Linked DNA regions of Homo sapiens. The protein of the gene in region 2 purifies or fractionates together with the protein of the main gene of each other region. This does not show direct contact. Each region holds a gene or a part of one and is shown on either strand. Other genes may lie near its edges.

Region 1 (2,281 bases), on a different chromosome or scaffold from region 2:
CAGAATCTCTTTGAATCCATTACTCCATGCCCCCTTGAGGCACTGTTGAAGAAATCTCACTTTTCAGCCAGGGTACTGGTTCTGGTACATATGGATCATAAGTCCATTTGGGGAAGACTCGTTTATACAGGTTCATCAGTACTGTGTCTTGAGATTTTAGCTTCCCATCAAAGCTGCATTTCATGTGGCCATGGGTACCTAGAAAGACATCAGAACAAGTCGGTCAAATTAAAAGTAGAAAATTTTAAAGCAATGACTTCCAACCCAACAGTCATTTAGCAACACTGCAGAAATGCAGACATGGTCTCAAATCCCGTGTTTCCTTACCTAAAGGTTCCTTGATATGTCCTCTCCGGCCCCACTTCGTTCTCAGTTCCACTGGTTTAAACCACAGCACATCCTCTTAGAATCAAACACATTAAAGACCAAGATGAAACATTTACCCACAAAATGTAAACCCAACCTTTATACCACAAAGGCAATCAGATCCCATCCTCCTCCTTCATACCCACCTCTGTTGAAGAACATGTAACGTACTACTGCCATCTTAGTAAAAATTTTGAAAGGATGACCACTCAGAACAACTCTCTTGATGACCATTCTGTCTGGATCTACTGACATAAGATGGCCTGTAGCAATGAGGCTGTGCATTCCTAAAGGACAAAAGCAAAGAAGCTATTTAGGAATTTACAGGCCAAAGTCTTCATTTATTGCCCAGTCCATTTAAAGACCCATGCAAGAGCCTGGTTTGTCATCCCTGCCCTAGCCCAATCTGAGGCTAAGATTGGTAAACTGTAAGCCCACACTTAACCTTGTCAATAGGTTCTTGAAAACTTGTACTTCAAGAGAAATGATGTATAACAAAACCATACTTTTTCTCATCAGTTGTTACAAGGAAAGGATGTTGAACAAAAGGCAGTTATTTGAGGACTGGCTATACACTGTTTCACGTAAAAGTTGGAGTTTTCATTGTTCTATTAACAATGTTAAATGAAGACTTACTGTATTTTGAAAACCATCATTACCTTCTCCATACCATTTGGCTCCCAAATTTAAATAAACAAGAGAAAACGGTGTTCATCTATTAAGGACCTGCAGGGTCTGTTCATCTCTGTGGCTCAACTTACCATTGCTTTTTTGCTTGAAAAGCAGCACAGATGCAGGAGGAAAAGTGATTGGCGCATAGACTGTCGCCACCAGGGCCATGTCAGCAGTCAGGAATCTCTGCAATTTATGTTTGTCCGCTGCCATAAGGGTTAAAAAATGAAAAGCAAAACCATTTTGAGAAACCAGAGGTGATAGAGGCCTGTGAAAAGCTGTATTAGTGCAACTCTTAAACCTATGGCAGCTTCTACTTCTCTAAACCACCAGTTCTCAAAAATTTTCGCTGCCTCAATGCACCTAAAAGATACGATCTAGTCCTATCAGTAACTTTTTTTTTTTCTTTTTTTTTGAGTTTGAGTATCGTTCCTGTCACCCAGGCTGGAATGCAATGGTGTGATCTCAGCTGACTGCAACCTCTGCCTCCCGGGTTCAAGCAGTTCTCCTGCCTCAGCCTCCTGAGTAGCTGGGATTACAGGCACATGCCACCACGCCCGGCTAATTTTTGTATTTTTAGTAGAGACCGGGTTTCACCATGTTGGCCAGGCTGGTCTCGAACTCCTCACCTTGTGATCCACCCACCTCAATCTCCCAAAGTGCTGGGATTACAGGCGTGAGCCACCGCGCCAGGCTGTATCAGTAACTTTTTATTTATTTATTTATTTTGAGATGGTGTCTCGCTCTTGTTGCCCAGGCTGGAGTACAATGGTGCCATCTCTGCTCACTGCAACCTCCACCTCCCAGGTTCAAGTGATTCTTCTGCCTCAGGCTCCCGAATAGCTGGAATTGCAGGTGCCTGATCAGTAACTTTTTTATCTGGAGTCAGAATCTTGGAGCCTAGACTGTATTTGATGTTCTACCTTCAAGGTAGCCCTCACCTCCTTTTTAAAATACTAAACTTAAAGGAAAATAAAATATTTTAAGGCAAAGAAAAATTAATCTCACTTAGAGATTGTGATTCTCACAATTGGTGAGAATAAAAATTATCCAAAACACCATTAATACTGCTTTCTTCATATTCCTCCTGCCACTGCTGAGAGTGAGTGAACTAGGACGATGTTCAGAAGCCCCCAAGTTAGTGGGCAACATATCTTCCTGCTCCTACTGTGTAGGAGACAATCATTTCTGCTGCAAGTCCCGTCCAGTAGTCTCTCAGTATCTCAGGACCCCTACCTCTGCT
Region 2 (3,500 bases):
ACTGATAGAAGAGGAGGAAAGAGAGAAAAGGATAGGAGCAATGTTTTTAAAAATAATGACAGAAGAGTTTAGCAATTTAATTAAACTGAAAAAAAACAAAATTTGAGGCCGGGCGCAGTGGCTCACGCCTGTAATACAGCACTTTGGGAGGCCAAAGTGGGCAGGTCACCTGAGGTCAGGAGTTCGAGACCAGCCTTGCCAACATGGTGAAACCCCGTCTCTACTAAAAATACAAAAATTAGCTGGGTGTGGTGGTGAGTCCCTGTAGACCCAGCTACTTGGAAGGCTGAAGCAGGAGAATCACTTGAACCCAGGAGACAGAGGTTGCAGTAAGCCGAGATCACACCACTGCACTCCAGCCTAGGCGACAGAGCGAGACTCTGTCTCAAAAAAAAAAAAAAAGAAACACACTATATTCAGAAGACTGCTGCCTTCTAACTAGAAATGACAGAGACTAAGAAGAGACAGTGTAACAACAACTTTTAAGTGTTGGAAGAAAAATAACTGTCAACTCAGAATTGTATATCCAGTGAAAGATTCCTTCAAGTGAAGCAAAATAAAGACATTTTCAGATAAATGAAAACAAAGAGAATTTGTGGCCAGCAACCTGCACTATAAAAAAATGCTAAAGGAAGATTATCAGGCTGAAGGAAAATTGTATACAATGAAAACTTGAATCTTGCAGCAGGAATGAAGAGGACTGGAAGTGATAAATATGCGGGTGACTATAATTGCTTGTATTCTTCAAAAAATCAAATAATAAGACCTCAGGCACACCCAAATCTATGGACATTCTATACCTTTTTCTTCAAAAATGTCAATGTCAAAGACAAAGAATGTTTAAAGATCTGTCATAAATTACAGGAAACTAAATAGACATGCCAACTAAATACAATGAGTGATCCTGGGCTGGTTGCTTGTGGCACAGAAAAAAGAAAAACTTGCCATAAACTGTATTTTTGGAACAAATGGTCAGCATATGTAAATAAGGACAATAAAAGAGTGTGCTAGTATCAAGTTTACTTTCCTGATTGTGACTGTAACATCATCCCTCTTCCTTACCCATCTGGCATTGGTACATGTTCCGTGGACTCTGGTTGTGATCAGAGAAAGGGATGAAGTTGGCAATCACACTCAGCAGGCTGTGTGGAAAGAGTTCCTGGTGTGTGGTAACTCCAGCAAAAACTTCATCCTCAAAGATAGCGACATTCATGAAGATCTGGAAGAGCAGATGTCCAAGGCACAAAATAACTGCAACTGGTTACACATTTACTCTTACCATTTCTCAGAGTTCAGTACTCAAAGACTCAAGAGAAAACCATCCCCACCCAGCATCATGAGTGCTGAAGGGATCAACTGGGAAGCACAGGGAAGCGACCAGTTAGAAATACCACTTGCTTTACGTATCTCACTCTAAAACTACCCCAGACCAATTGTGAAGGGGAATAGGAAGAAAAATTTTTAAGTAGCACAAAGCCTATAATTTTGCAACTGTAAATATGTAGGCAAAGACTGAGTGTGAATCTAATGGAATGTTTTCACTTCACGGCTGAGGCAGAGCCAGGTACAAAGGAGTTCTGGGAGCTAGATAAGATGGGAGGCAGGTAATGTGACCACCAGCCCTCTCTCAGGTTCTGTGGAGTGAGATCAGACATGGAAATTGCTCTGTGCTGATCATAGAGGAGGTGGAAAGTCTGACTTTCTTTCAAATGTCCAACTGTTGTTGTAACATTAACAACCCTTTTAAAAAAGGAAGAGTTAAGTCTCTGAAAGTTGTATACTATACAAACAAGCACATACACTCATCCATCACACATATGTATTTACCTGTTCCATAGTTCCAATTAGCTCTTCTTTGCCCAATGCTAAGTTCTGCACAGGCCGTACCAGTCTACAAGGAGTGGTAAAAAGGAACAATCCTGGGTACAGACTTGGTTTTCCTGTCATGGGTATAAGGACCACTTCCATCCAGGGAGGAATTCTTTTCTCTCTCAACACCTGTTTTTAACAAAAACAGAGTTTAACAAACCTGTCCCAAGGCCATGGCTGTCGCTGCCAGTCTTATGCCCCATGGAATACCACTCATCCACACTCAGCCATGGTAAAAGCCCTACTTCCTTGGGTGCTCACCCCAGCTAGTAGGCAAATCACTAACTACTGAGGCTAAGGATAAAGCACACCATGAATGCACGTGTCGATACACTAAAGGAAATTCTGTCCTCTGTGATCTAAAATACAGTAGATTACTGGTTTTATTTGTAAATTTAATAAACCAAAAACTCATGGGTGGGCCGGGGGTGGCTTATACCTGTAATCCCAGCACTTTAGGAGGCCAAAGTGGGTGGATCACTTGAGCCCAGAGGTTCAAGACCAGCCTGGGCAACATGATGAAACCCCGTCTCTACAAAAATTAAAAAATTACCTGAGTGTGGTGGTACGTGCCTGTAGTCCCAGCTAATCGGGAGGCTGAGGTGGGAGGATCACTTGAGCCCAGGAGGTTGAGGCTGCAGTGAGCCATGATCATGCCACTGCACTCCAGCCTGGGTGACAGAGTGACCCTGTCTCAAAAACAAAACAAAAAAACTCCAACAAACTCCTGGGTGAAAGGAGAAATAAAAACCTAAATTACAGAAACCTGAAAACAACAACAACAACAACAACAACAACAAACCCATGTGTCAGAACTCATGGGGATTCACAGCTAGATGCATTATCATTAAAAATGAGAGAATGTTTGGTGGAGGGGGACACGGGGAGATGTTGGTCAAAGAGTATAAAGCTTCAGTTATGCAACAAAATTAAGTTTCTGGAGATCTCATGTACAGCATGTGACTATAGTTAAGAATACTATATTGCATGCTTGAAATTTACTAAGAGAGCAGATCTTAAGTGTCCTCATCCTCCGATGCTCCACAATGCTAACCAAAAAAAAGAGAATGAAAATAAATTCTCTATAAAAAAGATAAAATCTGAGACTAATGAGGCAGGTAGCTCATTTGAGGTCAGGAGTTCGAGACCAGCCGGGGCAACATGGAGAAACCCCATCTCTACTAAAAATATAAAAATTACCCAGGCATGGTGGTGTGCACCTGTAATCCCAGCTACTTGGGAGACCGAGGCAGGAGAATTGCTTGAACATGGGAGGCGGAGGCTGCAGTGAGCCAAGATCACACCACTGCACTGCAGCCTGGGCGACAGAGCGAGACTCTGCCTCAAAAAAAAAAAAAAAGAGGAATGATTGTTTAATGGTTACAGAGTTTCAATTTGTGATGATGAGAAAGTTCTGAAGATGGTGATGACTCCACAACATGAATGTACTTAAAACCCTCAACTGTACACTAGATCAAATCTCATACACTTTCTGAGCATCAAAATAAGTAGTAACAGAATATTCACAAAATTAAACAAGCATCTATAAATCTACGCTAACATAAATAAATGAACAACTAATAGAAAAGAAAGCCCTCCCTTACAGAATAGCAACTAATAAACATAGAAAA
Region 3 (3,500 bases), on a different chromosome or scaffold from region 2:
GCACGGTGGGGAAAGAAGAGCATAGGGCACTTCTCTGGCCCCTGCGCTGGATAACCACACCCATGAGCCTACCAGACTCTCAGCCCCTCCCTCTTCAACCAAAACTGTGTGGCTCCTGATAGGGACCAGGGGGATTGGCTCCTGTGCTTCAAAGAGAAATAATGGAGTCCCAGGGAAAAGAGTGGACCCACGCTCCAGGCATTATTATTTTGACTCTAAGAGCTTAAACATTAATAATGATAAAACAATAACGATGCAGTAGGAGACAAGCACTGATCTCAGAACCTTATGTGCAATCCCCCATCTCACCTTCATCTAACCCTGGTGCAGCACTGTGAAAATTCCCACTTAACATGGAAGTCTCATGGTCTGCTCAACTTTTCACACTAGCAGGTGGTAAGGCTGGGAGTAAATAAAGCCCAGGCTTGCACATTGGACCAGTCTGTCGGATGGCTGAGCCCCTGGTCAAGCAAGATGACCTGAAAATCTCTGGGTGATCTGGGGCCTACTCAAAGCAAACAGGGCTGCCCCTTTGGAACAAACTCAGCCAATCACTCAGGAGCTGCAACAGGAACACTACCTTCTTGCTTCACCTGATGAGAGTCGGCTCTTACATATGAAGCCACAAGCTATGGTGGCTCTTTCAAAACAACCTGATGAGGTCAAGACCATCCTTCGAAGGAATGAACAATTGAGATTAAATGGCTGCCCAAGGCGTACAGCTGTTTTGGGTACAGCAAGGGCTTGAGCCTACTCTGTATGATCTCCAAGTTCCACCTTACCAGGAAGGAAAGTCTCCCACCAAGGAGATTCGAGCTTTTCAAGAGAACGCAGACTCTTTTGACACACTGGGCAAGAATCTGTCTGACAAAGTGGAAATTTCATGACTCAAAAGAGACCAGCTAGTCCTGAGTTCAAACTCCAGCTTTACTACCCTGTGACCTTGGGCAGGTCACTTCACATTTCTTGGGCTGGTTTCCAGTCTGGCTGCCTTTGGGGAGGGGACCTGGGTTCGTAGGAAGAAAACTTCCTTACACTGAATAATTATTGTCTTGTTTGAAATTTTTTACCATGTGCATATATTACTTTTCCTAAATATTTGCACATAATTTGATTGATTTAATTGGGGAAAAATGTACATAGGAAAAATAATGACCTCTTCCTCAGGGTTATTAAACGGTTTCAAAATAAAGTATGTAGCTAGTAAAGGCGCATAGTATATGCTTAATCAGTAGAGTGGTGACAGAGTGGAGGGAGGCAGGAGGCAGGCTCATTCCTGCCCTGGGGCCCAGAGGAGAGCATGTGGCACAGAAGCCCCAGCCTACAGCCAGCCCCTAGCATTAAGGCAGGTGCCCATTCAGCTAGAGCCTCAGGGGGTTGCGAGTTGGGGGAGCTGCTCCTAGCCTGGGCACCCATGCCCTTTCCTCCCTTGTGGAGCCTCAGGAAGGCCTTCTTCCTCGACCAAAGCCCTGGGCTCATAGGATCTCACCTCTGCACACATCCACAGTCACCCTGTGAGGCTGTCCCTGGTTGGAGGAAGCCTGTCTCTGCTCAGGGTTGTCTATATGGGATTTGGACTCAGCTTCTGTGGACTGCCTACAGTTCTTGTGCTTCCACTTCCAGCCTCCCTGGACTGAGCAGGAAAATGCTGGTGGCCCCAGGTTGGTGGAAGGACATAGGCCAGGCATGTCTCCTGGCCCCTCCCTCAGCCCTTCGGAGGCATGAGTCATTGAGGCCATATGTTTACTTGCTCCTCACAGACCCTCCCTCCCAGTTCTCAAAGGAAGTGACTGCTGCACCGCTGTTGACAGGCCTGAGTGGGAGCAATTAGACCCAGGAGCCACACCAATTGGGATATTACTCTCTCATAGATATTTTACTATAGAATAATTATACTCCAAACACTGCTAATAAATCAGGCTAGACAAACGAGTGACACACACTTTATCACCTTCATCTTCAATCAGCATCTTGGGGCTGGCCTAAGGCTGATGGAGCCCTGAGCAGGCCCCAGCGGCCCCCCCGGAGCTAAGGGTCCAAGCTCTGGGTCTGAGGAAGGGAGAGGAAGGGGTTGCTCCTCAGTCCCCCACTTGAGGGCAGGTCTAGGTACAGGGGCAGGAAAAGAAGAGGGCCAGGGTGGAGCACCCAGGAAGAACCTAAGACAAGGAGAAAGGGAGGGGAAGGGGCTGCAGTGACAGAGAATTCCAGACGAGAAAACCAGTGGATTTTCTCCCAGAGGAGAAAACCTGTGGACGGAGACCTGGAGCGGAGGGTGGGCGATGGAAGCCCACCACATGTGACACCGTGGATGGGCCAGATGTTGTGCTGGCACCTGCACTAAACCCAGGGGACCTCATCAGGCTCCTGTGAGGAACTGAGGCCCTTGTTGAAAGCCTCAGGGCAGACCCCTCCTGCTAGGAGCCTGAGCCCCCGACAGTGGGGTTGCCAGCACTCCGTGCTCTTTAAGCCAGTCAAAGCCCAGTCATGTCCCAGTACAGCTGCTGCTGATCCGCTTGGACCCACAGCCAGGGAGCTAGCCTTCTAGAAGAGACGGCAAGGTTTGGCTGTCCATCCATCCTGCCTTCAAGGCCCGATGGGCATGGATTCCCACTCAGCACTGTGTGGACAGCTGCTGGGGATGGATGCCCCATGGGAGGAGGTGATTCCACTACTTTGGGGGAGACCACCGTGTTCTGTCCACCCTAGTGGCAGGCCCATCCCACCCAGCACTGGGCCCAGGTGCTGATGCACCACAGGACCAGCCGAGGGAGGCCCAGGGCCCAGTCAGAGTCTCCTGGGACAGAGCAGGCACCACCCTGAAAGCACAAGGCCAAGGGCCGCCCAGCAAGGCACAGCCAGGGCCTCATCCTACTTCAACTAGACTGGCTCACCTACATGCCTAAGGCCTGCATCTAGCGATGGTGAACTTCAGGCACCCTAGGTAGCCAGGGGCTGGACCTCCCACTGTGTCAGCTTCCTGTACCTTCCTTCCTCTTGCTCTCTGGCACCCTTAGCCCCTTCCCCTCAGTCCACAGGTGAGGAAAGACCTGGCCACCATTAGCCCCTTCCCCTCAGTCCACAGGTGAGGAAAGACCTGGCCTGGCACCACTGATGGGCAGTGTTTCCCTCTGGACATAAGCAGCTTGCAGGGGCACATGGGCAGATCCCAGCTGGATGGAGGTACAGTGCCCACCAAGGTCAAGAGAGTGGGGCCTGATCAGGGCAGCAGGCCAGGGAAGCCAGTGCTAACCGCTGCCATCTGACACTGGCTGTGGGGGAGCCCAGACCTGCTCAGACCCATGGGTGCCACATCTACCATGTAAATAAGTGGGGGTGGGATAGCTGGGTGGGATTGGGTACAGTGGGGGTCCCCCTGCCCAGGTGCTGGCCCTGGCTCTGTGACTGACCAGCTGAGAGAACTGTGGCCACCTGACCATTCTGGGCATCAGATGCCTTGTACAGAAACTACAGAGGTTGGCACCAGAAGGTCTCTGAGGGCC
Region 4 (3,500 bases), on a different chromosome or scaffold from region 2:
CTTCAGCCTCCCAAAGTGCTGAGATTACAGGCGTGAGCCACCATGCCCAGCCTGATTTAATTCTTAGTAATCACTGTTCTCACAAAACCCAGAAGTCCTCAAACACTAGAATGTGATATATAATAATGTAATATGATTTTTAGAAGATATTTCAGCATATTTTTCAGATATTTTGGGATAACTTCTTCAAAAGAACATCTTTTTAAGATAGATATACTACTCAGATTTCTGGTAATAGGTAAAATTGTCTCTCACCACTAAATATTACTGTTCTCCAATCTTTTTTTTTTTTAATTATTTTTAAAAATTCTTAAAAACAATAGAGATAGGGGTTTTGCTATATTGACCAGGCTGGTCTCAAACTCCTGGCCTCAAGTGATCCTCCCATCGTGGCCTCCCAAAGTGTTAGGATTACAGGCATGAGCCACTGCGCCCAGCCAAAAGTTTGCTCTTTAATCATAACAAGTCATACTCTGCTCCTTTGCCCACTGAAGTTTCTCTTTTTTTGAGACAGAGTTTTGCTCGTCGCCCAGGCTGGCTCACTGCAACCTCTGCCTTCCGGGTTCAAGCGATTCTCCTACCTCAGCCTCCCAAGTAGTTGGGGTTACAGCTGTGAGCCACCACGCCCAGCTAATTTTTTTGTATTTTTTTTTGGAAAGACAGGTTTACCCTGTTGGCCAGGCTGGTCTTGAACTCCTGACCTCAGGTGATCCACCCGTCCCCAAAGTGCTGGAATTACAGGTGTGACCCACCACACCGGGCCTGAAGTCTCTCTTTTGTGTTATAAATCTGTCAATACCTAGGGCTGTGGATGACACAATCAGAACAAAGTTCTGGGATTTCATTAACAGTCTTCGAGGAAATACATCTATTTAACTTGCTAGATACAATCCTTTTAAAAGTCAAAGAGAATTCCACATTCCATAAGGAACCTAGTTCTGTTCAAATTTTGCCTCATCAGAAATTTCACATCGGCCAGGCACGGTGGTTCACACCTGTAATCCCAGCACTTTGGGAGGTCGAGGCAGGTGGATCACGTGAGGTCAGGAGTTCGAGACCAGCCTGGCCAACATGGCGAAACCCCGTGTCTACTAAAAATACAAAAATTAGCCGGGCATGGTGGTGTGAGCCTGTAATACCAGCTACTCGAGAGGCTGAGGCAAGAGAATCACTTGAACCCGAGAGGCAGAGGTTGCAGTGAGCCGAGATCACACCACTGCACTCCAGCCTGGGCAACAGAGCAAGTCCCCGTCTCAAAAACAAACAAACAAATAAAAATAAAAAGGGAGAAAGCATAAACATGTCAAACTCTCAAATTGTCCCTGATATTAGTAGTACAACATGTGCTGCAGTCATCATCAATTCTTTATTGCTGATGCCAATAGATAGGGGCTGTGGATTATTACTTAATACTATTTAGTTCTGTGTAACAAAATTCTTCTGCACCTCCAGACAAAGTTCACTATAATATGCTTGAATGATCCACTTACATAACAGTTTAGGAAACTGTTTTACACCACTCCTTTGATAGAGAGCAGGGTTTCTCAACCTCAGCACTACTGACACTTTGGGCTAGATAATTCTTTATTGTTGGGGCTGTCTCACACATTGTAGGATATTTAGGAGCATCCTCCTGGCCTCTACTCACTAGAGGCAGTAGCACCCCTACCATTACCCCAGTTGAGACAACTAAAAAGGTCTCCAAATATTGCCAAGTGTCCTCCCTGGAGGCCTTTGGTTGAGACTACTGATATAGAGTAAATCACTACACTGAATATATTGCCCTGGTATTTGTAATTCATTTCATAATTATACTACGGTACTTAAAAAGGATTTCATTGGTATCTGGAGCATAAGAGAGTAGAGAGTAGGAAAGATTTATGAAAAAAGGTTAGAAACAGGCAGTGTCATGCACAAAACATAATTAGTAAAGCTGAACAGAAAGGGTCAAATGAGAGAGATTATAGGTAGGTGAAAACAAAAATACTACATCTAAGACTCTAATAAAATAATAAATAAAATAATAAATAATGAAGCCTCTATAAAACATTAGGACAAAAAAAGATATATTCATGTCTCAGAAATTTTTTTTTTTTTTTTTTTGAGGCAGGGTCTCATCACTTAGGTTGGAGTACAGTGGGGTGACCACAGCGTACTGCAGCCTTGAACTCCTGGGCTCAAGTGATCCTCCTGCCTTAGCCCCCTGAGTAGCTGGAACTACAGGCATGCACCACTATGCCCAGCTAATTTTTTTTTTTTTTTTTTTTTTGAGACAGAGTCTTGCTCTTTTGCCCAGGCTGGAGTGTAGTGGGGCAATCTTGGCTCACTGCAACCTCCACCTCCTGGGTTCACACCATTCTCCTGCCTCAGCCTTCCAAGTAGCCAAGACTACAGGTGCCCGCCACCACGCCCGGCTAATTTTTTGTATTTTTAGTAGAGTCGGGGTTTCACTGTGTTAGCCAGGATGGTATCGATCTCCTGAACTCATGATCCGCCTGCCTCAGCCTCCCAAAGTGCTGGGATTACAGGCGTGAGCCACCGCGCCCGGCGCTAATTTTTAATTCCGTTGTAGAGACAGGGTTTCACTATGTTCTTGAAGCGTCATAAAAAAATTTTTTTTTTTTTTTTTTTTTTTGGACTGAGTCTTGCTCTGTCGTCCAGGCTGGAGTGCAGTAGCGTGATTCCGGCTTACTGCGATCTCAGCACACTACAGGTGTGTGTCACCACACCTGGCTAATTTTCATATTTTTAGTAGAGATGTTATTTCACCTGGTTGGCCAGGCTGGTCTTGAACTGCTGACCTTAGGTGATCTGCCCGCCTCAGCCTCCCAAAGTGCCGGGATTACAGGCGTGAGCAACTGCACCTGGCCATATTTTTTGATAATAAATGGACCCTTCCTACTGTCTTCAGCTTTGGTTAACACTGAAATTAATAAAACTCAACATATATAAACCTGTATTAAAAGCTGGGACTAATGCAGCCCCTAGGGTGTCATGGTGTAGGTGAAAGAATACTGAACTCCAGTCAAGAAATCTGGCCTTCAGTCTTGGCTCATACTGAATAGACAGATAGGTATGTGACCATAAGCAGATCTTTTCACCTTACTGAGCCTTAGTTTCCTTACCTGAAAAGTAAGGGATTAGACTAGATAATACTTAGTCTCTTTCAGCTTTCACATTTTATAATTCTTCAGATGTCAGCTCATAGATGATAAATATAAAAAAAATAGGAGGGGCGCAGTGGCTCACGCCTGTAATCCTAGCACTTTGGGAGGCTGAGGTGGGTGGACTGCCTGAGGTCAGGAGTTCGAGACCAGCCTGGCCAACATAGCAAAACTCCGTCTCTACTAAAAATACAAAAATTAGCTGGATGTGGTGGTGGGCACCTGTAATCCTAGCTACTTGGGAGGCTGAGGTTGCAGTGAGCTGAGATTGGGCCACTGCACTCCAGCCTGGGCGACAAGAGTGAAATTCTGTCTAAAATAAAAAAAAGGATAATG

What was found. Proteins that work in one complex are often made in the same cells at the same time.
Region 1: the proteins of POLR1B (region 2) and TSR1 fractionate together in Homo sapiens (co-fractionation; 2 studies listed by BioGRID). This does not show direct contact.
Region 3: the proteins of POLR1B (region 2) and EEFSEC fractionate together in Homo sapiens (co-fractionation; one large-scale study listed by BioGRID). This does not show direct contact.
Region 4: the proteins of POLR1B (region 2) and RPRD2 purify together in Homo sapiens (affinity purification with mass spectrometry, with the first as the bait; one large-scale study listed by BioGRID). This does not show direct contact.

What each region holds. Positions count from the first base shown.
Region 1 is NC_000017.11:2,324,177-2,326,457, forward strand, and holds part of TSR1 (pre-rRNA-processing protein TSR1 homolog), read right to left. Parts: intron 1,245-2,281; coding exon 1,128-1,244; intron 1,089-1,127; exon of another isoform or gene 654-1,088; coding exon 513-653; exon of another isoform or gene 403-512; coding exon 328-402; exon of another isoform or gene 199-327; coding exon 20-198; 3' UTR 1-19. UniProt on the Homo sapiens protein: Required during maturation of the 40S ribosomal subunit in the nucleolus.
Region 2 is NC_000002.12:112,566,465-112,569,964, reverse strand, and holds part of POLR1B (DNA-directed RNA polymerase I subunit RPA2), read right to left. Parts: intron 3,208-3,500; coding exon of another isoform or gene 3,070-3,207; intron 1,999-3,069; coding exon 1,828-1,998; intron 1,220-1,827; coding exon 1,063-1,219; intron 1-1,062. UniProt on the Homo sapiens protein: Catalytic core component of RNA polymerase I (Pol I), a DNA-dependent RNA polymerase which synthesizes ribosomal RNA precursors using the four ribonucleoside triphosphates as substrates.
Region 3 is NC_000003.12:128,341,981-128,345,480, reverse strand, and holds part of EEFSEC (selenocysteine-specific elongation factor), read right to left. Parts: intron 1-3,500. UniProt on the Homo sapiens protein: Translation factor required for the incorporation of the rare amino acid selenocysteine encoded by UGA codons. Replaces the eRF1-eRF3-GTP ternary complex for the insertion of selenocysteine directed by the UGA codon.
Region 4 is NC_000001.11:150,465,147-150,468,646, reverse strand, and holds part of RPRD2 (regulation of nuclear pre-mRNA domain-containing protein 2), read right to left. Parts: intron 1-3,500.